7 linked regions of the Homo sapiens genome follow. The protein of the gene in region 3 purifies or fractionates together with the protein of the main gene of each other region. This does not show direct contact. Each region holds a gene or a part of one and is shown on either strand. Other genes may lie near its edges.

Evidence for each region.
Region 1: the proteins of IPO11 (region 3) and UNC45B purify together in Homo sapiens (affinity purification with mass spectrometry; one large-scale study listed by BioGRID and IntAct). This does not show direct contact.
Region 2: the proteins of IPO11 (region 3) and CTDP1 fractionate together in Homo sapiens (co-fractionation; one large-scale study listed by BioGRID). This does not show direct contact.
Region 4: the proteins of IPO11 (region 3) and ZDHHC11 purify together in Homo sapiens (co-immunoprecipitation; one large-scale study listed by IntAct). This does not show direct contact.
Region 5: the proteins of IPO11 (region 3) and PDLIM5 fractionate together in Homo sapiens (co-fractionation; one large-scale study listed by BioGRID). This does not show direct contact.
Region 6: the proteins of IPO11 (region 3) and SH3GL2 fractionate together in Homo sapiens (co-fractionation; one large-scale study listed by BioGRID). This does not show direct contact.
Region 7: the proteins of IPO11 (region 3) and DHTKD1 purify together in Homo sapiens (affinity purification with mass spectrometry; one large-scale study listed by BioGRID and IntAct). This does not show direct contact.

What each region holds. Positions count from the first base shown.
Region 1 is NC_000017.11:35,164,817-35,168,316, reverse strand, and holds part of UNC45B (protein unc-45 homolog B), read right to left. Parts: intron 257-3,500; coding exon 1-256. UniProt on the Homo sapiens protein: Acts as a co-chaperone for HSP90 and is required for proper folding of the myosin motor domain. Plays a role in sarcomere formation during muscle cell development. Is necessary for normal early lens development.
Region 2 is NC_000018.10:79,749,303-79,752,802, reverse strand, and holds part of CTDP1 (RNA polymerase II subunit A C-terminal domain phosphatase), read right to left. Parts: intron 1-3,500. UniProt on the Homo sapiens protein: Processively dephosphorylates 'Ser-2' and 'Ser-5' of the heptad repeats YSPTSPS in the C-terminal domain of the largest RNA polymerase II subunit. This promotes the activity of RNA polymerase II.
Region 3 is NC_000005.10:62,485,763-62,489,262, reverse strand, and holds part of IPO11 (importin-11), read right to left. Parts: intron 1,493-3,500; coding exon 1,402-1,492; intron 1-1,401. UniProt on the Homo sapiens protein: Functions in nuclear protein import as nuclear transport receptor. Serves as receptor for nuclear localization signals (NLS) in cargo substrates.
Region 4 is NC_000005.10:844,487-847,986, forward strand, and holds part of ZDHHC11 (palmitoyltransferase ZDHHC11), read right to left. Parts: intron 3,295-3,500; coding exon of another isoform or gene 3,130-3,294; coding exon 3,028-3,129; intron 1-3,027. UniProt on the Homo sapiens protein: Endoplasmic reticulum-localized palmitoyltransferase that could catalyze the addition of palmitate onto various protein substrates and be involved in a variety of cellular processes.
Region 5 is NC_000004.12:94,654,442-94,657,941, reverse strand, and holds part of PDLIM5 (PDZ and LIM domain protein 5), read right to left. Parts: intron 3,483-3,500; coding exon 3,302-3,482; intron 516-3,301; coding exon 395-515; intron 1-394. UniProt on the Homo sapiens protein: May play an important role in the heart development by scaffolding PKC to the Z-disk region. May play a role in the regulation of cardiomyocyte expansion. Isoforms lacking the LIM domains may negatively modulate the scaffolding activity of isoform 1.
Region 6 is NC_000009.12:17,582,066-17,585,565, reverse strand, and holds part of SH3GL2 (endophilin-A1), read right to left. Parts: intron 1-3,500. UniProt on the Homo sapiens protein: Implicated in synaptic vesicle endocytosis. May recruit other proteins to membranes with high curvature. Required for BDNF-dependent dendrite outgrowth.
Region 7 is NC_000010.11:12,092,954-12,096,453, reverse strand, and holds part of DHTKD1 (2-oxoadipate dehydrogenase complex component E1), read right to left. Parts: intron 2,382-3,500; coding exon 2,183-2,381; intron 1-2,182. UniProt on the Homo sapiens protein: 2-oxoadipate dehydrogenase (E1a) component of the 2-oxoadipate dehydrogenase complex (OADHC). Participates in the first step, rate limiting for the overall conversion of 2-oxoadipate (alpha-ketoadipate) to glutaryl-CoA and CO(2) catalyzed by the whole OADHC.

The sequences.
Region 1 (3,500 bases), on a different chromosome or scaffold from region 3:
GATCTGTTTGAGCAGTGACACTCCATTGGTGATGATGAAGGTGGCGCGGCTGAGCTTCGTGGAGGCATGGATGAGGGCCTCCACGGCCACCAGCTGGTCCGTCTCGCGCTCTGAGCCACATAGTGCCACCATCATCTCCATCACACCTTTCAGTCCCAGCAGCTGGTTGCCCAGGTCAAAGGGGCCCTGCAGGATCCCTGACACTGTCTGGATGGCATTCAAGTTCTTGTCCATGTCCTGGGGGTCAAACTTGCCCCTAAAACAAAGGACAAGGGTGGTCAAGAGAACTGGTCCAAGAGAGTGGAAAGAGTGTGAGATTTGGAGGCAGTAGGATTTGGATTTGCATCCTGGCTCCACCACTCATGTGCTGTGTGATATTGGGCAATTCAGCGAACCTCTCTGAGCCTCAGCTCCTGTAAACTGAGGATAGTACTACTAGTTCTCAGAGTTGTGGTGAGGATAAATGACATAACAGCTGTGTCACAGAGTGTGCCTCTGGGAAATACACTCTGACTCAGGGATTGACATGCAGGAAGTTTATTAGAGAGAGCTCTTGGGAAGAGAAGGAAGCAGGACTGGGGCAGAGGGAGGCATTTTGCAGCTATCACAAAGCCTCAGCCTCCAAGAAGTTCTGGAGCTGGAAGACCCTTCACAGTTGTTCCAAGTTAGAGTGAGTCTTTTTCTTTCTTTTTTTTTTTTTTGAGACTGAGTCTTGCTCTGTTGCTGGAGTGCACTGGTGCCATCATAGCTCACTGTGACCTCAAACCCCTAAGCTCAAGCAATCCTCCCACCTCAGCCTCCTGAGCAGTTGAGACTACAGGTGCACACAATCATGCTCAGACAATTGTTTAAATTTTTTTGTAGAGATGGGATCTTGCTATGTTGCCCAAGCTGATCTCAAACTCCTGGCCTCAGATGATCTTTCCACCTGGCCTCCCAAAGCACTGGTATTATAGGTCTGAGTCACCTCAACTAGCCTGGTGTGAGTGTTTGCATACTGGCTTCCCTGGGAAGGGTGAAACAGCTCTCCCCAGGTGAGACAAGTCCCAAAGAGAGATAACAGCTGAGAGCTGTCAGCTGACAGCCTTTCCAGCAGCTGCTGTGTCTGGGAGGACAGTACAGCATTGACAACAACACAAAAAGGCCTAGCGTGATGCCCGGCACACTGTGTCTCTCTGTGACATGGCCTGGGCCAGTCACTCCCCTCTGGTGATCTGGTCTTAGTCCCTTCCCCTGTTGGTGAGCATGTGGGCTAGATATCCAGGAACGTTCTGCCTTGCTTTCAGAATCTATTATCATCTACTCTAGGGGAGAATCTCTGCGTGGGAATGTCAGAGGTGACATGCCTTCTGATGCTTCTCATCTGCCCAGGTTGGTGCATTGTGGGAAACAGGGCAGATGTGCACAGTGGAAATGCAGCTGTGTATAAATGCAAGAAGGCAGCGTGGACTGGTCAGGAGAACTCCACACCAAGAGTCCAAGACCTGGGCTCTGGTCCCATGTCTGCCTCTGATTGCTGGAGGATCTCAGGCAAGTTCCCCTGGGGAAGAGGACTCAGCTTTGGAAGCTCTGACAGCCCCTCCAGCTTGAGCATCCCATGTCCTGTGCCTCATCTCTCCACTCAGTGCCCAGGGAACCAGCATCCTTCGTAATTAGTTGCGGTCTGACCTTTGAGCTGGCACTGGGTCCCCACACAGCCCCCGCCCCTGATGAAGCGGGATGTATTCCACTCTTGCTAGGGGCAGGCTGGGGCACCATTTGATGAAGGCAGTGACCCCTCCTCTCAGCATTCCACAGGCTGACAGGAGGGAGCCTCAATCAACAAGCCCAAACAAGAACTAGCTGGATGACAGGTAATGGGAGTCAGTTGGGGACCTCATGAGGGACTCAAGAAGTCAGCAGGAAAAGTTGAAACTGAGGTAGAGAAAGACAGAAGCCTTGAAAAGACCTAAGTGAACCAAAGTCAGGGTGAGCAGAAGCCGTGGGGTAGAGAAGGAGTTGGCAAATCCAGGGAGTTGAGAATAGCTTTCACATTATTTTATTTTATTTGAGACGGGGTCTCACGCTCTTGCCCAGGCTGGAGTGCAGTAGTGCATTCAAGGCTCATTGCAGCCTTGACCTCCTGGGCTCAAGTGATCCTCCTACCTCAGCTTCCCAAGTAGCTGAGACTACAGGGGTGTGCCACCACACTTGACTCATTTTTAATTTTTTTTTTTTTTTTTTTTTTTTTAGAGATGAGGGTCTCTCTACATTGCCTGGGTTGGTCTCAAACTCCTGGTCTCAGGCAATTCTCCCACATCGGCCTCCCAAAATGCTAGGATTACAGGCATGAGCCACCACACCTGGCCAGCAGCTTTTTGCCTTTCTTTTTTCTTTTTGAGATGGAGACTTGCTCTGTCACCCAGGCTGGAGTGCAGTGGTGCGATCTTGGCTCACTACAACCTCTACCTCCTGGGTTCAAGCGATTCTTCTGCCTCAGCCTCCCTAGTAGCTGAGATTACAGGCATGTGCCACCATACTCGGCTAATTTTTGGTATTTTTAGTAGAGATGGGGTTTCACCATGTTGGTCAGGCTGGTCTTGAACTCCTGACCTCAGGTGATCCGCGCTCCTCGGCATCCCAAAGTGCTGGGATTACAGGCGTGAGCCACTGTGCCCAGCCAGCTTTTTGCATTTTAAAGGATTTTTAAAAATATGTTGACAGAGACTTATCTGTCCCACAAATACTAAAATATTTACTCTCTGGCCCTTCATAGAAAAAGTTTGTTGACCCCTGGAATATAGAAAGGAAAAGCAGAGTAAAGGCAACGTCTTCACCCACCTAAGACTCACCTGGAGTGCTTTTAAGCATGCAGCTTCCTGAGCCACACCCCAAACTACCGAGTCAAGAGGGGATGTCTCAGAAATCTGAATAATTTACAAGTCTGGGAATCACTGCAATAAAGAATTAAAAGGTCATGCACTGGAGTCACACTGATGCTGGAGCACCAGTGAGGAGACTCAGGAACTGCAGCTGCTGAGGGTCCTAACCCCTGTCTAGCTCTGCAAAGCCACATGAGTCTTAGTCTTGAAAGAACCGGGCCTCCCTCCTTGACAAGCTGACATGTGTTCCTTTCAACCACAGAAGCCAGTGGTAGGTATAAAATATGTCCATGGCTGGGCAAGGTAGTTGATGCCTGTAATCCCGGCACTTTGGGAGGCAGAGGCAGGAAGATTGCTTGAGCTTGGGAGTTCAATACCAGCCTGGGAAACATAGCAAAACAAAAAATACAAAAATTAGCCAGGCGTGGTAGTGCACACTTATAGTCTCAGCTACTTGGGAGGCTGAGGCAGAGGCAGGAGGATCGCTTGAGCCCAGCAGGCTGAGGCTGCAGTGAGTCATGATCATGCCACTGCACTCCAGCCCGGGTGACAGAAAAAAAAAAAAATTAGCCCAGCATGGTGGCAAGTGCCTGTAGTCCCAGCTACCCTGGGAGGCTGAGGTAGGAGGATTACATGAGC
Region 2 (3,500 bases), on a different chromosome or scaffold from region 3:
TCTGCATAACCAGCCGGTGCCACTAGGCTTTCCTTAGGAGCCTCTGCATAACCAGCGGGTGCCACTAGGCTTTCCTTAGGAGCCTCTGCATAACCAGCCGGTGCCACTAGGCTTTCCTTACGAGCCTCTGCATAACCAGCCGGTGCCACTAGGCTTTCCTTACGAGCCTCTGCATAACCAGCCGGTGCCACTAGGCTTTCCTTACGAGCCTCTGCATAACCAGCCGGTGCCACTAGGCTTTCCTTAGGAGCCTCTGCATAACCAGCCGGTGCCACTAGGCTTTCCTTACGAGCCTCTGCATAACCAGCCGGTGCCACTAGGCTTTCCTTAGGAGCCTCTGCATAACCAGCGGGTGCCACTAGGCTTTCCTTACGAGCCTCTGCATAACCAGCCGGTGCCACTAGGCTTTCCTTACGAGCCTCTGCATAACCAGCGGGTGCCACTAGGCTTTCCTTAGGAGCCTCTGCATAACCAGCCGGTGCCACTAGGCTTTCCTTAGGAGCCTCTGCATAACCAGCCGGTGCCACTAGGCTTTCCTTAGGAGCCTCTGCATAACCAGCCGGTGCCACTAGGCTTTCCTTACGAGCCTCTGCATAACCAGCCAGTGCCACTAGGTTTTCCTTAGGAGCCGCTGCAGGTGCACCTGGTTTCTGTGACGTGAGCCGACTTGATCGGGGCACACCCAGGAGATCCCCAGAGCCCTGAAATTCCAACCACCTGATGTCCTGCCAGACACCCTCCCTCCTGGTGCCGTGCTGGGACGTCCCACTGCGCCAAGGAACCTCAGCTACAACCTTAGAGGTGGAAGCCTGGTTAAATGTGCACAGCCTGTTTTGATTTTACCCTGATTAGGGGCAACTGAGCCATACTAGCCTTCAGTTACAATCCCGAAAAGTCACTGAGAGAAACTAGGGACAGTCACCATATGTGAGTACCCTAAGAATATTTTCTTAGCTAACGTAGATACAATGTAGCTAACATACACACCTATGTGACACATTATGTGTGATACAGCCACACACACACACAGCAGGCATATAACACACATGCACTCGAGGCTCACACACAAACTATAGCACGGTAATGTGATACACCTGCACGCACACACAGCACGCATGTAACACACATGCACTCGAGGCTAATATACACAAACTATAGCGCAGAAATAACTTGAAACCATTCTTGCTGGTATTAGAAGAATCACAGTTCATTTATAAGAGACAAAAGGAATAAAATCAGCTGATCAGATGGAACCAACAGAAGACAAGAGAACCCCGTGGGCTGGCACACACAGCCGATCAGTCACGACAAGCTCGTTCAGAGAACCCAACTGTTCGTGGTCCAGGAAATACCGCATGAGAGAAACACAAGGGCCCCAGAACTCCAAGTCCTGTCCAGGTGGCAGGCACTGGGCCGTAGGATGACAGCCCCTCCCCCGCTCCCTCCTTCCCTCCTGGACCTGCCTCTGTGCCCAGCCCCTCCCTCCCTGGCCTGCCCTCTGTGTGCCCAGCCCCTCCTTCCCTGGCCTGCCCTGTGTGCCCAGCCTCCCTCCCTCCCCGGCCTGTCCTCTGCGCCCAGCCCCTCCCTCCCTAGCCTGTCTTCTGTGCCCAGCCCCTCCCTCCCAAGCCTGCCCTCTGTACCCAGCCCCTCCCTCCCCGGCCTGCCTCTGAGTCCAGCCCCTCCCTCCCTGGCCTGCCCTCTGTGTGCCCAGCCTCCCTCCCTCCCTGACCTGCCCTCTGTGTGCCCAGCCTCCCTCCCTCCCTGACCTGCCCTCGGCGCCCAGTGCCTCCTTCCCCAGCCTGTCCTCTGTGCCCAGCCCCTCCCTCCCAAGCCTGCCCTCTGTACCCAGCCCCTCCCTCCCCGGCCTGCCTCTGAGTCCAGCCCGCTCTGTAAGATGGGAACTGCCATCTTTCATCACATACTGGGACCCCTGGATCCATGAGATCCTTTCTTAAAAAGCAATGCATCCCATCATTTAAAAGCGGAGTAGGCAGGGCGTGGCGGCTCACACCTGTAATACCAGCACTTTGGGAGGCCAAGTCAGGCGGATCACCTGAGGTCAGGAGTTCAAGACCAGCCTGACCAACATGGTGAAACCCCATCTCCACATTAAAAAAAAAAAAAAAAAAAAAAAGCAAAAAATTAGCCAGGTGTGGTGGTGGGCACCTGTAGTCCCAGCTACTCGGGAAGCCGGGGCACGAGAATTGTTTGAACCCGGGAGGCGGAAGTTGCAGTGAGCTGAGATCACGCCACTGCACTCCAGCCTGGGTGACAGAGCGAGACTCTGTCTCGGGGGGGAAAAAAAAAGGCAGAGTAGCGGGAAGTGCACGCCCTAATACCTGCCGTCCAAGTTTTAAACGAATTTATTTTTATGTCAACTGGAATGAATATTTTCTACTGAGAAATAAAGGCTTACTTTTAATTGCTACATGAGAGTGAGGGGTTGCAAATTAGCTGGGAGTGTCGGTGCATGCCTGGAGTCCCAGCTATTTGGGAGGCTGAGGAAAAAGGATCCTCTGAGCCCAGGAAATGGAGGCTGCAGTGAGCCTGGGCCATGACCGCAACACTGCACTCCAGCCTGGGCGACAGAGCAAGACCCTGTCTTAAAAAAAAAAAATCTCCGCGCACCTTTTCTGTGCACCTGCTTCCCCTCTGCACACCTCGTCTGCAGATCTTGTGCCCGTGCCTGTGTTGGGCTGGGCACCGCCCGCTTCCCCTCCATGCCTCATCTGCAGATCTTGTGCCCGTGCCTGTGTTGGGCTGGGCACCGCCTGCTGTTTGCTTTGAGGACGCCAGGCGTATCATACACGAGTTTCCTTTATTTCCAGTCTCTGCTGACACTAACGACGCTGTCAGGGCCACGAGTCTGGCCTCCGGTTGCTACAGCAACAAGCTTTTGGCAATTAACAAATTCATCAGTCATCTCTTTTCCTCCGCATACACGCTGACGGCTGTTCCGGGAAAACCCGGCTCCCATCCTCCCATTAGGCTTCCTCCACCTCACTCCGTTTTGAGAACTTGAAACAAAACAAGACAGAGACAGTTCTCGTAAACGTGAAGGTGCTGCCGTGAGGGGTGTCCCGAACCCCTGGAAGAGCTCAACCCACTGGCAGGTGGACGGGACAGGAGACCCTTGCGAACAGAGGCGGTGTTTCAGGCCCCCAGAGCAGTGCATGGCGCTGACCTCGGGGAGGGGGCAGTCATGACTGTGAACAGGAGAGCCGAAGTGCCCTCTCAGGTCGAGCTCGGGACGGTCACCAAGTCCAGGAGGGGGCGGGCCTGGATCTCGTGTGCACGGGGCGCGACCCTCACAGTCTGGTGCCCGGCTCCCTGCCTGTGTGCTGATGCCTTGCTCAAGGGAGCCCTGGCCCCTCCTAGTGGGGCCAGACTCGGGGGTGCTGGCAGGTGTGGTTGACTCCCTCACAGCGACGCTGGGTTGGACGTATCAGGGGCACTGAGCAGAGCAGGGGCAGGGGCAGGGGCCCCGACCGAAAGTGAAG
Region 3 (3,500 bases):
ATAAAACTAGTTTTTTAAAAAATTTATATTTAAACACAATTTGTTAGTTTCCCAATTCAATTAAGTATAACACATTTCATGGTGTCAAAAATGGACACAAGTACAAAGGGAAAGTCTAAGTTTTATGATTATCATTAGAGAACACAGGATTAAAAACCATTATAGCATATTTGAAAAATGTTATGACAAGCAATATTCTAGAAAATATACACCACAAAATGCTAATGTGCTATATACCACAAAATTATTTTTTTTGAGACAAGGTCTTGCTTTGTCACCCAGGCTGGAGTACAGTGGAGTGAGGTTTTCTCAGTTCACTGCAGCCTCATCCTCCTGCGCTCAAATGATCCTCCAACCTCAGCCTTCTGAATAGCTAGGACTACAGGTACTAACCACCAGGCCCAGCTAATTTTCCTAATTTTTGTAGCGACAGGTTTTTGCCATGTTGTCCAGGCTGGTCTGGGACTCCTGGGCTCAAGTGATCTGCCCACCTCAGCCTCCCAAAGTGCTGGAATTACAGGCGTGAGTCACCATGCCTGGCCAACACTCATTCTGACAACATGCTCTTCTCTAGGATACACCACTACACCTGGCATTTTTACAAGGCTTTTATTTACTCATATCCCTATAGGTGAAAATCTCAGGTTCTGTCCTTAAGATCCTCTTTTCTTTTCCCAAGGCTCCTTACATACATGCACTCCGAAAGTATATCTCTATCTCCTACCACTTCTAATGAGGTAACTGTTTCCTTGTCATTAAGGCTCAAAAGTTTAGGATCATCTTTGATCACTTTTCCTTGCCTAGCACATTCAATCGGTTGCTAAAAGTCAATCAAGTAACAATAGTTACTGAATATGCCCAGCACTGGGAATAAAATATAAACAAAACAGACGTGATCAATGCCCCTAGGACTTACAGTCTAGCAGAAAAGACAGAAATCATAAATCAATGTTAGTTAATAGGCAGATAATTAGTTACTTGTGTACAAAGTGTAATGACCAAGTGTCAAAAATTTACATCATCATTTTCTCTCAAATCCATAATCAATTATTTCCATTCCCACTGCCACCATTCTAAGAGAGGCTAACACTATTTTAACCTTTTCTCACTATTTCTCACAACACGCTCCAGATAGACTTTCTGCAAGCAGTATGACTACTGTTTTGCTTTTGCTTCTATTGTATTTACTACAGGAAAATTTATCATCGTCCAAACTATAATTCAAGGCCTATCTCAAATGCCACCCCCTTGGAAGATAATAAGTTTTAAAATTGTTTTTCTCAAATTCATATTTATTATATGACCCAGGAAACAGTACAGTATGCATTGTAGGCACTCAGACTATTTCTTAACTAAACGTTAAAGAGATTAACTCAAAGTTAATCACAAAATATGCCTTACCTTGAAGTGTTTGCATCATTTCTAGAAGTACAGGAGTAAGAGTCTGATTATATTCATGGAATATATCTATAAATAATACTTCAGTGCATGGCTGGAGAGGGAAAAATACAAATTTCTCATCAAAACAGTTGCATACTATATTGACTAATTCTTTAATAAAGCAAATACTTAATCTTAAAATTCTAAAACTTTGAAAATGTTTCCAACTTTTGATTTGTTAAAAAAAAAAAGTAAGGTTACCATTTTTTTATAACCAACACAAAGGAAAACAAAATCGAATTATAATTAATAAAAGAAAGTTGATTTCATTTCAATTATTTGTCATTACGCATTCAAAAACTTAAAACTATGGCAAGCAAAGTGTACATTTTAAATTAATCATACCTTAAATTTAAAAAGCATTCTGTAGCCACTCATTTATAGCTCAGTACTATAAATGGCTGACTACCCAAGATTCTTTTTTTTTTGAGACACAGTCTCACTCTGTCACCAGGCTGGAGTGCAGTGGTGTGATTTCGGCTCACTGCAACCTCCACCTCCCAGGTTCAAGCGATTCCCCTGCTTCAGCCTCCCGAGTAGCTATTATGTATTTTCTTAGCAATGATATAATAAGCAAAAACAGGAACTCCAATTTGCCAAATAAAGTAGCCTTTCTCTTAACAAACACAAGCGGTAACAGAAATTAGCATTAGCTACATTTAAAAAAATGATTTGTTTGGTTCTTAAAAGTACTGAATCATTTCACATTGCATGCTGGTATCAAAACATCTCATGTACCCCATAAATATGTACACCTACTATGTACCCACAAAAAATTTTTTAAAATAATTTTTTATTTAAATTTTAAAAAGGAATTTAATCACTAGATCGTTCACAATATTTAAATTTTTTAATTAAATTTTTAAGGTATTGTGTGGTGTTTTAAAAGGAACATTATAAATATACACACTGAAATATGGTCAGAGGATGTGTCATCTCAGATAACCATCAACACTGGGAGATGTTTACAGGAAGCTAAAGTAGCCATGAGTTGATAACTAATAAACTAGCTTATCATGAAGGGCTCATTATATTATTCTATTTTTTAATATGTTTAAACTTCTCCATAAAAGAAACTTTTAAAAATTAAAGGAATGAAATTTTTTAAAGTTTTAAAATCACCAGTAATCTCTCTGGTTAACAACTGTATGTTTATGAATCTAAAAACATTAAAGATAACATTTTTAGAAGACAAATAGCTAATTATGTAAATTATGTAAGTGCAAATCTTAAAAAGAAGAGCTCAAACATCACATCTGGTAACGGCAAAACATTTGTCATATTAATAAATGCGTTGTAAAAGTATCCTATAACTGAAAGCAATGGGCTAGTCTCTGAGAATCACATGAAGTGGTAAGAGAAATAACATACCAAAAGAAACTTTACTAATGAAATATATAGAAGGAAAAAATTCTAGCTTAAGAATGGCAGCTTTCAGTTTGACAAACATTTTCTATTTGTGTAATGACAATTATTTCCCAAGCAATGTACTAAAAGATGAAGAAAAAATTTGTTTTCCGACCCCAAGTTAAACAAAAGAAAAGGCCAGGCACAGTGGCTCACGCCTGTAATCCCAGCACTTAGGGAGGCCGAGGCGGGTGGCTCACGAGGTCAGGAGATCGAGACCAACCTGGCTAACAAGATGAAACCCCGTCTCTACTAAATAAACAAAAAATTAGCTGGGCGTGGTGGCGGGCGCCTGTATTCCCAGCTACTCGGGAGGCTGAGGCAGGAGAATGGCATGAACCCAGGGGGCGGAGCTTGCAGTGAGCCGAGATGCACCAGTGCACTCCAGCCTGGGCAACAGAGTGAGATTCTGTCTCAAAAAAAAAAAAAAAGAAAAAGAAAAAAGAAAAAAAACTCAGATTAAACGTCATAATTTAATATGAATATAGTTCTTAGTTTCTTATAAACAGTTTCTTATCTGTCTGACTTAATGTTGGGAATCTTTAATTTTTTTTTTTTTTTTTTTAAGAGACGGGTTTTGCTTTGTAATCCAGGCTAGAACGCAGTGGCATCATCATGGCACACGGCAGCCTCAACCTCCTGGGCTCAAACAA
Region 4 (3,500 bases), about 62 Mb from region 3:
CCTGATGCAGACAGGCCTCCCTACCAGCCAAGGAGCACGCGGGCTCGGTCCACTCGGGGGGCCCTGAGCATGGTCTGTGCTGGGGTCTCCATGGCACCATGCTGGGCAAAGGCACTGAAGCCAGGGAAGGGGAGAGCCACGAGAGTGCCGTGGCACCCAGGAGGGCCTGCAGGCTCAGGGACCTGGATCTCTGCACCCAAAGGGAACTCGGGCTGAGGAGGCCCTGGAGGAGCCCGGCCACACCTCGGCTGCAGTCCCCCCTTCTCCAAGGGTCTCGTGCAAATCTGAGCCAAAAGCGATGTCCATGCTGTAGACGTGAGACCAAATCCACTCCCAGTCTCTCGTCTTTGCTCAAAAGATGCAGAGAATAATCCATCCACAAAAACCAATTCTGGGCAGCAGTTCCTGGAACATACTTTGACTAAACCATCTTCCCTTGGTCTTTCTGCCATGATGATATTTTTTTAAAAGTATCCTTTAACCTCCTTTAATCCTTTCCATTGTATTATGTTCACCTAAGCTTGTTTAAATCCCTTTTTCTATTTTCAACTGGAGGCCAGAGCATGAATGCCGCAGTCCTCCGAAGAGGCAGTTAGGGCACAGCTGCCTTCCCCGCGCTCCTCCTCCCTCCAAGAGTCTTCTGGATAATCCAGGGGTGACGGGTGGCTCCAGGCATGAGCGGCTCCCTGACTGCTGCTCCCTCATACTGCCTTCCCTCTCACAGCTTAGGTTTCCCAAGCAGCAGCCCCTCCAGGCAGCGGACACGCCCTACCCTGCCCCCAGTCCTCCTGGGCTTGAGCCCACTTGTGGGGAGTAAAGACCCCTCATCTTCATCCTACTGTCTGGACAGGACTCCCCTCTTCATCCAGGAAAGAAGGCGGGTCTCTAAGACCACAGAGACAAAAGCCCACAGGATGGGGCAGAGCCATTCACGCGGGGCCTCCTCTCCCCGCAGCCACCCAGGGACATTCTCCTCTTGGTTAGCACAGCCTCCTGCCCCTGCTGCCTGTGTTTAACCTGCAGAGTCCGAGGCCAGCGCTCACAGTCTTCCCAGGACACCAGCGCCGCCTGCCTTCTTTCCGTCCCCCTTCCTCTCTTATCACTACGAAGTATGCAGCCTCCCTCACAGGGGCTCTGCCATCAGCTGGGCCTCCCCATGGGGGCTCCGCCATCAGCTCGGCCTCCCTCGCGGGGGCTCTGCCATCAGCTCCTCAACTTTCCTCATCTTGCTCTCAATGCCGTTGCTCTCTCCGCCTCTGGCGGATGAAGGGACAGAAGCGAGGTTGGCACAGATGCCGGCGTTGGCTGCTGCCTGGAGCTGAGGGCGCCCATGACCCCGGCCCTGCTCTCCTGATGCCCCTTTCCCACACCCAGGCGGTGTCTACACTTGGCACCCACGTGGTCCCTCTCCAGCACCCCTCCTGAGGAAGGCAGACCCTCTCCTTGCCACCTGCCTGTGGGCCCTCACCCCCTCACCTTCCCCACCAGGACCCGCCAGATTGAGCCAGCTCGAGGCACCAGAGCAGAATGAGTCCAGAAGGAAGTGGCACCTGGGGCTAGCATGAGCCAGAGGAGCTGGCCCCACCTTGGCCATCGTGGAGCTGCTCTTCTCCAGGGGAGGAGGCCGGTGGGTCTCCCCGGCCCCTACCATCTCACGCAGCCTCTGGACTCGCTGTGCGGTCATGCAACCTCTCTGTCCCTGCCGGGCTGCTCAGCCTCTCTGGACACATGCTGTGCTCCAGACGGGATGGCAGGGAGGCAGGGCAGGGACCGCCCGGTGCGTCCTGTGACACCAGGCAACGTTGGTCCCCACTCCCACGCACACCAAGGCCTCTTTCAGGTCAGCACAGAGTAGCTGGGGAGCAGGCGTGGTTCTTTTCCCTGGTGATCTTCACAATACAGTGCTGCAGACAGCCGGGGCTCAGCACACGGGGCCTTGAGAGTCCCTGGATCCTCCACTGTGCTCAGGGGAAACACCTCTCATCTATGAGCCTCCACCGTGCTCAGGGGAAACAACCTCTCGTTCTTGAGCCTCCACCGTGCTCAGGGGAAACACGTCTCATCTGTGAGTCTCCACCGTGCTCAGGGGAAACACCTCTCGTTCTTGCACCTCCACCATCCTCAGTGGAAACACCTCTCATCCTTGCGCCTCCACCGTGCTCAGGGGAAATACCTCTCGCCTGTGAGCCTCCACCATGCTCAGGGGAAACACCTCTCGTCCTTGAGCCTCCACCATGCTCAGGGGAAACACCTCTCGTTCTTGAGCCTCCACCGTGCTCAGGGGAAACACCTCTCGTCTATGAGCCTCCACCGTGCTCAGGGGAAACACGTCTCATCTGTGAGCCTCCACCGTGCTCAGGGGAAACACCTCTCGTTCTTGCACCTCCACCATCCTCAGTGGAAACACCTCTCATCCTTGCGCCTCCACCGTGCTCAGGGGAAAGACCTCTCGCCTGTGAGCCTCCACCATGCTCAGTGGAAACACCTCTCATCTGTAAGCCTCCACCGTGCTCAGGGAAACATCTCTCTTCCTTGCATCTCCACCGTGCTCAGGGGAAACACCTCTCGTCTATGAGCCTCCACCGTGCTCAGGGAAACACCTCTCATCTGTGAGCCTCGACCATGCTCAGGGGAAACACCTCTCGCCCATCTGCGCTGGGTGCCCACTGCCCTTCCGTGGCCCCACCCTTGTGCTGGATGAGCCTCAGCCTGGGTGGAGAGAAGGCAGCCCAGCCCAGGACAGCGTGGTCAGGAGGCCTCAGCCAGCGTGGCCCCGCAAGTGCCCCCGGGGGGCCTCCAGGGACTTACTCTATGCGGATGAGCTTGTCCAGGGACGGCTGCACCACAGCCCCAGAGCCAGACAGGAGGCCGGGGCACGCAGGCACCAAGCGCCACCACATCAGGACAGGGACGCGGCCCCAAGAGGACCCTCCACCCTTTCAACACGATGACCCCTGCCCACAGACCCCTCCCTTCCAAATTCCCCCAAGCCTGGCCCGTGCCGGCCATCCCCTCTGTGCCCCTCACCAATAATTCCGGCTTCCCACGCAGTTGTTGATCCATTTGCAGTGGTGGTCGAAGCCGGACACACACTTATTGCAGGAAATGCAGTGTTTGGTTTTCTTGTTCCTGGAGGGATGAATCGGGGAACGCCTGTCAGGCCCCAAGTGCGCAGGTTGGGGCAGGGCCAGAGGTCCATCACTGGAAGCCAGGTGCCTCGGAGGAACCAGCCCTGTGCGGCCTGGGGAGAGGGCGTCCAGCAGGGAATGGGAGGCTGGGGGAGGGTGTTGAGGCCTGTGGGGAGGAGGAGAAGCAGGGCAGCTGTGGGCAGAGGTAGCCACAGAGCAGGAGGAGCTGTGTCTTTGGCCGCCCTGAGCATAGACCCCCCGCCAGCCGTCCTACACCAGCCTCACTCTGGGCCATGGCCCTGGAGGAGGCCGCGCCTGCCCCATGGTTCCAGGAGTTGAGGCCGGGGGCTTGGATCCCACCTGTGCCTACAG
Region 5 (3,500 bases), on a different chromosome or scaffold from region 3:
CTGACGTCGGGAGTTCGAGACCAGCCGGGCCAACATGACGAAACCCTGTCTCTACTAAAAATACAAAATGAGCCGAGCATGGTGGCACATGCCTGTATTCCCAGCTATTCGGGAGGCTGAGGCAGGAGAATCGCCTGAACCTGGGAGGCAGAGGCTGCAGTGAGCCGAGATTGGGCCATTGCACTGCAGTCTGGGCAACAAGGGTGAGACTCCGTCTCAAAAGAAAAAAAAAAATCTACATAGTTTTTTCTACATGCTTAGAGCAGCATTAAATGCTTCCAAAACAATTAAGAAAATAACTTTGCCTAATATTTTCTTGAGCTTTATAGTAATATAAGGGTTAATGTTTTACCTTTATTCAAAATTCAAGAAACAAATGGCTCCCTGATCTTACCAGTCTCACAGTAGGGTTCACCATCCTCCAAGTGAAAAACATTGTTCCGAATGGGCTTTCCACAGGCTACACACACAAAACAGGAAACATGCCAAGTTTGTTTCAACGCACTGATGACTTCCTGTTACAGAAAGGTAATTGGATGTAAAAAAAGAAGATGACAATAAATACATAAATGTTTATTCTAATATCTGTACCAGTAAATCCCTGTAGAGCTAATCCAAAGTAGGCACACATACTTCATTTTTGTCTTGAGCTTTCCCTCAAAGTAACAAGAGATACTTAAGAACAGACTCACAAATCATCTAAACGGATGCATATTTAGACGTGTGTTCTTTACAAATGCCAATCAATAAACTTAAAGAATGATCACTATGTTATTTATACATTATATGTACAGTGAATAAAGTAAGCATTTCATAAATGCTTGCTACAAAACTTTCTGCTTCTTCTCAAAGGGTGTCAGGAAACATTAACTTACCAAGGTTTTATGGTATTATCTGCAAAAGTTCTGGGGGAAGGAGGAAGCATTTAAAAATTAAAACAAACCTATACTTTGGTGCATTTTAGAAGCAATAATATAATATATATAATTTAATAACAAAACATAATGGGGCCGGGCGCAGTGGCTCACACCTGTAATCCCAGCACTTTGGGAGGCCGAGGCGGGCGGATCACGAGTTCAGGAGATCGAGACCATCCTGGCTAACACGGTGAAACCCCGTCTCTACTGAAAATACAAAAAATTAGCTGGGCGTGGTGGTGGGTGCCTGTAGTCCCAGCTACTTGGGAGGCTGAGGCAGGAGAATGGCATAAACTCGTGAGGTGGAACTTGCAATGAGCCGATATCGCGCCACTGCACTCCAGCCTGGGTGACACAGCAAGACTCCGTCTCAAAAAAATAAATAAATAAATAAAAATAATAAAATATACATAATTATATATAGTTGTATATATTACATGTATATAATGTATATAAATGTATATAATGTAATAAAATATAATAAAAATATAATGTAATCCAATCAGTTTAACACGTGTTTAGGCTTTTGGAAATCAGCTAAGATGGCACTAAGCACAGACTCGAATGTGTAAAATTTGGACCATATTCTAGTCAGCAATGGCCCAATGGTTAAACATACCAAGTTATAAAGATTTGGGCCAGATATTAGTTAGTAAAAGAGGTTTTGGGTGTTGGTTTTACAAGAAATCATTTCTTTGGATTGAGAGAAAGATGGAGCCATTAAAATAATTTTGGATGAGTAGTGAATACTCTTTCTATAATATTTATCACAAAAAATCATATACATAAAGCATGATTACAATTTTGTAAACACATTACTTATAAAGAGCAAACTAGAAAAAAACACATCATAAGGTTAACAGTAATTATCTGTGATTGGTAAATATTTAGGTCATTTAAATTTATTCTTTAAATTTTTTGTGTTTTCTAATTGTGCTTGAGTGAACTATTTTCTTTTATAAAAAATATCAAAATAAAATGAAATAATATAGACTTATTAGCCATAGAAATTGTCACAGTTCACTACTGAAGGACAATGGGAAGAAACAGACATTTAGATCCAAAAAATTCACCATGAACATTTGTAGAAGATGTATATTGAATCAAACTATCTCCCAAGGCTTCCAGAATATTCTTCCCTTTCCATCCTTGAGAGAAATCTTTAACAGGTAATCAAATAACTAAAATACAATCTAGACAAGCTATTGAAGTTCTGGCCCATCTCCAAGGCAATGAGTATGAGATTTCCATTTCCCAGAACTTTATTTGGGTCTAAGACTCTAACTTCACTTTGTTTTGTTATTCTAACATTTATAGAATACCTTGATACACTAAAACAGTATTAATGAATATTCTATTAATTATTTGTTATCATTTGGGAAGGTACAGTCTGAACCATTCCACTTCTTTGTTCCCAACATATTACACAAATCAATAATCTAGAAATATTTCAGGTGACATATATATAATTTTAAGTGTCTTCAACGTTTCAGACATATTTAAGGATATCCTAAGAGATATCTTAAGACTACTCAATAATTCATACTACCTATTCTCTCAATTAACAATAATTAGAGTTTCATTATCATATTTTCACATTGAGAGTATATTAGAGTTCAGCAGGGCCATGTCCAATTTTTGTGTGAAGCCAGGTACTCTGGCTTCTTCTGAAATCAGATTCCAGCTCCTAGTCACCATAAAGTATGCCTGACCCTTACTTTATCATTGGAAACTAGGTATTCCAGAGCAAGAAATTCATGTATTCATTATTTATTATGTACTGTATCTGATTCCTAAATTACTCCTTTTTTTGCAAAAAAGGAAAAAAAATTATTTTTCCATCACATGTGCACTCTCATAAAACTGAGGTTATATTTTTAAACACTGTATGTATTCAAGAAAAATATATCATTTATAAACCTCATGTTTTATATATTTCATGAAATCAGTGTCCTGTGCTTGAACTCTGACAAGTAGGGAAATACTGCTCTTATAAAAGCTATGGAATTTAATTTAAAACAGTGAAGGTGTCAGTTCTAAGAACTCAGATGTGTGTGGTCCTATGCGACCTCTTCATTCCTGAGCAAACAGGCTCCTGTTGAGGAAGCACACCCACAGTAAATTATTTTTTCCCCACAGTGGCTAGACTTTCACCAGACAAGCCAGCACTCAGTGAGACAAAACCAAAGACAACCTAACCCCATGAGTCCGATATATTTCCACAGAGGTCTATTTAGTTTTGCTTTACAATAATAAATAGTGCCGAAAGCAGAGAGGGCATAAAGCAAGAAGAAAATAAAAAGTTAAAGTGATAGAAGACTTTCATATCAAAAAATTATTCTACTTTAAAACTCATTCAGAATAAAAACGTTTCCAATACTTACTCCAAGGATCTTCCTTTGGCATCGACCACATTCAGGGGCAAAGAATTTCTCATAGCACAGCTCACAATACAGGGCTCCTTTCTCCTCTACAAATCCAATGTAGGCCATTGTATTTTTGCAGTGAGCGCAGTTGAATTCTTCTGGGTGCCAAGATTTCCCCAGTGCCACTAAGAATGGTCCTCTGACAGAAGAAAAAGAG
Region 6 (3,500 bases), on a different chromosome or scaffold from region 3:
GTCCCCCCTCCTATCCTCCTGTACAGTGATTGTCATTCTAAGACATGTGAGTATAATAAACTCTGTTTTCTTGAGCCTCTCCTATGTCCCCTCTTGTGGCTACACCTCACTGAACATTACCTAAAAGAACACAGGACAAGGGTACGAAGGATTAAAAGAACAAAAAGAGAAAAAAGGAGGCCAAAAAATCCACTGACTTCTTACCTACTTAGCATCTCCCCTATCTGGCCTTAAATTGAGAAGAATTGCTCATCTCTAGAAAGCCCCATCAGGTATCCACCTTAAAGTTTGAAGCAGTTCTTAAACTCCATCTCCTCACCTAATTCTCATTATTCATTTGTCAGTGTGTCCTGCCCTTCTCTCGCCGCTGCCTCAAGCTACTCCTCTGAAGAAAGCCCTCGGGTTGCTTGATGCCCTGAGACTCTGTATGCAGCACAAGAGGCTTGGCAGAATGGAATCTGCTCTGCAAGCTTCAGCTCCCTTCCCCTGAATATTAAACCTCTCCCTTCCACAATGACATCTGTCTCAAAACAGTCACCATTTGCCCCAACCAAGTCTTGCCATTTTCTAGGGTACTTCTAATTAATTTGCAGGTTACTTTAAAATTTTCTAAGTAGACTGAAACCAAAATTCATATAAACTCAATTTAAAATATTAAAGAATCACTATGGGGAAAAAAGCTTGCAAAAATATAGCTGTTTCAACAACACAAACTTCAATCACGAGGACTCTCAGTCTACAGAGAAATCATTTTCAGTCACCACTTTCTTTTCATATACCCCACAGGCCCGTATCGTTGACTTCAAGCGCATTAACAACATTTTGTTTTACATGGTTCAAGTGATCCTTATTATGCAAGCATGGCACTCTCACAAGCATTACCTCATTCAATCCTGACACCTCTGGAAAGGTTTTTTACATTTGATTGCTGCTAAATTAATGCAGAGAAGGCTGCATTTTGATCAGGCATCCTAAAGCCCAGTAACAGAACTGTTGGAGTGATTATTGTAAGAAACATCCACTTTCTCCTGATGACATGATGAATTTATTTATTTATTTATTTGAAACAGAATCTCACTCTGTTGCCCAGGCTGGAGTGCAGTGGCACCATCTTGACTCACTGCAACCTCGGCCTCCTGGGTTCAGGCAATTCTCCTGCCTCAGCCTCCTGGGTAGGTGGGATTACAGGCACCTGCCACCTCGCCCAGCTAATCTTTTTGTATTTTTAGTAGAGACGAGGTTTCACTGCACTGGCAAAGCCGGTTTTGAACTCCTGACCTCAAGTGATCCGCCCGCCTTGGCCTCCCAAAGTGTTGGGATTACAGGAGTGAGCCACCACGCCCCACCCTATTTTTACTTTTCGAGGGGAGGAAGGGGCAGCAATTAGGAATTTATTTAAGAATCTGGTAACAGGCTAAGGGCATTCTCCCTCAGAAAAATGCATGTATAAAATGTTACTTATAATTTTATAAAATATATAGGCCCCTTGCAGCCTATTAGAGACTACTGGCTAAGAATGTGAAAGGGTACAGGTGTAGAAATCCTGGGTCAAGCAACAAGCCACAGCCAAGATTTTAAAGGCAGCAGAGAGTTGACTGCTTAGAGGCAATTAAGAAACTGAAAATCTCACTGAGATAAAGTCATAACTAATTAGATATTTAATCCAATACTTAGTAAGTTTAACATCTCACCAAATCAACAAATGCATGAAAAGACTTATGTAATGGTCTCCTGAGCAAAGCATCCATATAAAATACAGCATTCTGAAAGAGGAAATTAGGTAAAACAAAAAGACACAGAACACAAACATGATGAAATTTTCCCAGTTAAGGAATCTGAGTGTGACAAATAAACATATACCAGACTGTATCATAAAACCCAGCCTACCCAAATTAATTTTATCATTTAAAAAAATCAGAAAACACAATTTATAATAGGTATATTTCTGACTTAGTCTGTTCAGGCTACTAACAAAATATCTTAGACGGGGTAATTTATAAATAATAGAATTTATTTCTCACAGTTTGGGAGGCTAGCAGTCCAAGATGAAGGCACTAACAGATTTGTGCCTGGCTAGGGCCCACCCTTTGCTTCAAAGATGGTGCCTTGTTGCTAAACCCTCACACGGTGGAAGGGGACAGGGTGACCCCTTCAACTTCTTTTAAGAGAGCACTAATCCCATTCATGACTTAATCATGAGTGCCCTCATGACTTAGTCACCTCCTAAAGGCCCCATTTCTTAATACTGTCACATTGGCAGTCAAGCTTCAACATACGTATTTTAGAGGGACACATTCAGAACTTAGCAATATACTAACCAACTCATTAAAAAAGGAGAAAGTATATCTTTTTGATGCAATAGAAAGTTATATGTTATTTATAGGCTGAACTGTCCTCTTAGATGTTGAATCAAATATAGAATACTGTGGTTAATCCTTTTATGCAAATAACGACTGTTATGGATTGAACTGTGCCCCTCCCAAAATTCATATTAAAGTCCTAATTACAATAGCTCAGAATGCAACTTTATTTGGAAATAGGGGCATTACAGATGGTAATTATTTAAGATAAAATCATACTGGAGTAGGATGGGCTTGCCCAATCCTATATGACTGGGGTCCTTACAAAATGGGGAAATTTGGACACTGAGACACACACAGGGAGAATGTCATGTGAGCATGAAGGCAGAGACCAAGGTGATGTATCTACAAGCCAAGGAAGCCCAAAGATTCCCAACAAAGCACAAGAGCTAAGAAGGCAGCCTCGAATAGATCCTGTCTCATACCTTCAGAGAGCTCGTGGCCCTACTGGCACCTTGGTCTCAGACTTCAAGTGTGCTTGTCTCAAGAAGTGGGAAACAATGTATTTCTGTCGTTGAAACGACTCAGTTTGTAGTACTTTGTTACAGCAGCTCCAGCAAACTCATAAAATGACCTAATATATTTTACTTTATAATAGACTTTTACATATTGTAAAGCAAAATGTGTCCACATCATATGCATGATAGAGTGAATTTTTAAAAATACAGATTTTGTAGGAGCTTCATGTTCACTGGAAACAGCTATTTTTAACTAAGCTGCTGCCAGTTTAAAACAAGTGTAAAAAAACTGACATGACTTTTGTAAAATGAAATCTCAATATGAATAAAACTCACTAAAAGAGCAACACAAGATCATCTGCCCTTTATTACAGTAAAAAAAGAATACTTTATTCTAATTATACAGTAAATTATATCTTTATGAGCAATTAAGTAATGAAGTACATGAAAATAAGATGATCAATCAATTTTTGGTATCATTATATATTTTCATGCTGAAAGGATTTTCTTCTCTAATAAATTTTACTTGGCAAAAGCATTTTTTTACCTCCAAATTGTAAACATATTGAAAATAACTGTCAGCAACAAGGTAGAAATAACCAATTCTAATATAAGACAACAGTTGTGACACATTTAATCAGAAATTCCAAGTACAAACAATATACTGTTTTATTTATCATCG
Region 7 (3,500 bases), on a different chromosome or scaffold from region 3:
TGATCATACCACTGCACTACAGCCTGGGCGACAGAGCAAGACCGTGTCTCAAAAAAATAAATAAAATAAAATAGAACCCTGAGGTTCACTGAGTCATTCAGCTGCTAAATTCAGAGCTAAACAGAACACAATTAGTTCTTCTGAGAGCAGTCCTCTTTCTGGTACCAAGGATCAGAAACGCTCATAAAACGTGTATTCCTCTGCTTTAATTTATATCTATAAGGAAATAAACTTGGAGGAGGGGAATCTATTTTATTTTCTAGTATCTAGAAAAGGAAGTTCCAAAGTAACAAATTCCCCCTCCGTCACATTAACCATCTGAATCAGCACCATGGGACAGAAATGAAATGCAAGCCATGAGTAATTTAAAATTTTCTGGCAGTCACGTTAGAAAAGATAAAAAGAAACAGGTGAAATTAATTTCTTTTCTTCTTGTTTTTTCTTTGAGACCGAGTCTCGCTCTGTCGCCCAGGCTGGAATGCAGTGGCACAATCTCAGCTCACTGCAACCTCCGCCTCCCCAGTTCAAGCGATTCTGTTGCCTCAGCCTCCCGAGTAGCTGGGACTACAGGCACGCGCCACAACGCCAGCTAATTTTTCTTTTTCTTTTCTTTTCTTTTCTTTTTTTTTTTTTTTTTTTTTGAGACGGAGTCTCGCTATGCCACCCAGGCTGGAGTGCAGTGGTGCGATCTGGGCTCACTGCAAGCTCCGCCTCCCGGGTTCACGCCATTCTCCTGCCTCAGCCTCCCGAGTAGCTGGGACTACAGGCGCCCGCCACCACGCCCGGCTAATTTTTTGTATTTTTAGTAGAGACGCGGTTTCACCGTGTTAGTCAGGATGGTCTCGATCTCCTGACCTCGTGATCCGCCCGCCTCGGCCTCCCAAAGTGCTGGGATTACAGGCGTGAGCCACCGCGCCTGGCCAAATTTTTCTATTTTTAGTAGAGATGGGGTTTCACCATGTTGGCCAGGCCGGTCTCAAACTCCTGACCTCAAGTGATCCACCCACCTTGGCCTCCCAAAGTGCTGGGATTACAGGCATAAGCCACCATGCCCGGCATTTCAATAACATATTTTATTTAAGTCAATATACTCATTATATTGTCATTTCCATATCTAATAAATTTAAAAATATTATTTTGGGTTTATATTTTACATGCTAAGTGTTTGAAATATGGTGTGTGTATTATCCTTACAGCACATTAATCAGGACTGGCCACTTTTCAAGTACTCAATAGCCACTGATGGCTAGTGGCTTCCATCTTGGACAGCATGGTTCTGAACATTCATTAGAATCTTCTGAGTTACCTCTCACCAAGGTGCCAGGCAGGTCTGCAGCTATGGTTTGTAGAAATGAATCACTGAGGTTCTATTTCTGGTCCTGCCGACACTGCAGTAAATAGATTTGGGCGAGGTTTGCTTAATTCCCCCTGCTTCAATCTTCCCATCTGCTGAGTTTTCTATTGCCCTTTTTCTATTCAATGAGGAACCATGTCAAGTGTGAAGAGTATGGGAGGCCAGGCACGGTGGCTCATGCCTGTAATCCTAGCACTTTGGGAGGCTAAGGCAGGTGGATCACTTGAGACCGGGAGTTTGAGACCAGCCTAGCCAACATGGCGAAACCCCTGTCTGTACTAAAAATACAAAGATTAGCCAGGCGTGGTGATGCATACCTGTAATCCCAGCTACTCAGGAAGCTGAGGCACAAGAATTGCAATTGCTTGAACCCAGGAGGCAGAGGTTGCAGTGAGCCAAGACTGTGCCACCTGCACTCCAGCCCAGAACTGTGTCAGCTTTAGCTCTTAAAGTTTCATGTCCTGCCTGGGCATGGTGGCTCATGCCTGTAATCCCAGCACTTTGGGAGGGCGAGGCAGGCAGATCACCTGAGGTCAGGAGTTTGACATCAGCCTGGCCAACATGGCAAAACTCCATCTCTACTAAAAAGTATGAAAACTAGCCAGGCACGGTGGCACACGCCTGTAATCCCAGCTACTCGGGAGGTTGAGGCAAGAGGATCACTTGAGGCAGGAGGATCATTTGAACCCGGGAGGTGGAGATGGCAGTGAGCCAAGATCGTGCTACTGCATTCCAGACTGGGTGACAAAGCAAGACTCCATCTCAAAAGAATAATAATAGTAATTTTAATTTTTAGGGGGCATATCACACAAGGGTTTATAATTGTACCTGATGATTTTGTACATGATGGGGTTGGTGTAGAATGGCTCATCCAGCTCATTGTGGCCCCACTGCCTGTAGCACAACAGATCAATAATCACATCCTTGCGGAACTGGCGTTGGTATTCAAAAGCCAGTCGTGTGGCACGGACCACTTCCTCTGGGCTGTCTCCATTGACATGGATGATGGCACAGCCCACAAGCTTCCCTGAAGGACAGAAGACCAAGCCGAAACAGGACAGTTAACCCAGAATGACACTGGCCCTCTCTAAGCCCTACTTCCTGCATCAAAAGACAGCCCAATCCTCACAGGTAGATATTGGTTTGGTTAACAACCCCAGCTTTGGAGACCAGCTGGCAAGTTCCAACTCTGGGACTTATTGTGTGACCTCGGTAAAGCTACAAATCTCAACCTACTTATCTATAAATCGGGAATGGGGCTCCTACCTCTTAGTGATGTTGCAAAGGTTCGATGAGTGAATGCACAAACAATTGTAATGCCTAACAGTGCCTGGTACATAGTAGTTAATATTTATTTTGTTACTGTTATTATCATTACTCTCTTTCTCCCTGAGATAAAAGGGTCATTAAAGGATGTACCTTAGAAAAAGATAAATTTGCTCCAAAGAATCTTCATCAGACTAATCATAAAGGATTCACATAGACAAGCCCAAGAGGCATCCAGTCCAGGCTGTTTGTATAAAAGGAGAATAGTTGCTACCATCAAACAGCCTTGTAAACTGTGAAACTGGGAATGGGTAATAACAGCACTGTCTTTATCTTAAGATGACCAATTTCAGCCTGGCACAGTGGTTCACGCCTGTAATCTCAGCAGTTTGGAAGGCTGAAGAGGGATCACACAAGACCAGAGGTTCAAGACCAGCCTGGGCAACACAGTGACTCAATCTCTACAAAAATTATTTTAAAAATTAGCTGTGGCCAGGTGCAGTGGCTCACGCCTATAATCCCAGCACTCTGGGAGGCTGAGGCAGGTGAATTACCTGAGGTCAGGAGTTTGAGACCAGCCTGACCAACATGGTGAAACCCCGTCTCTACTAAAAACACAAAATTTAGCTGGGTGTGGTGGTGGACACCTGTAGTCCCAGCTACTCGGGAGGCTGAGGCAGGAGAATTGCTTGAACCCGGGAGGTGCAAGTTGTGGTGAACCGAGATGGCGCCATTGCACTGCAGCGTGGGCAACAAGAGCGAAACTCCATCTCAAAAAAAAAAAAAAATTAGCTGTGCATGGTGGCATGTGTCTGTAAATCGCAGCTACTAAGGAGGCTGAGGAGGGAGGATCTCTTGAGCCAGGGATGTCAAGGCTGCA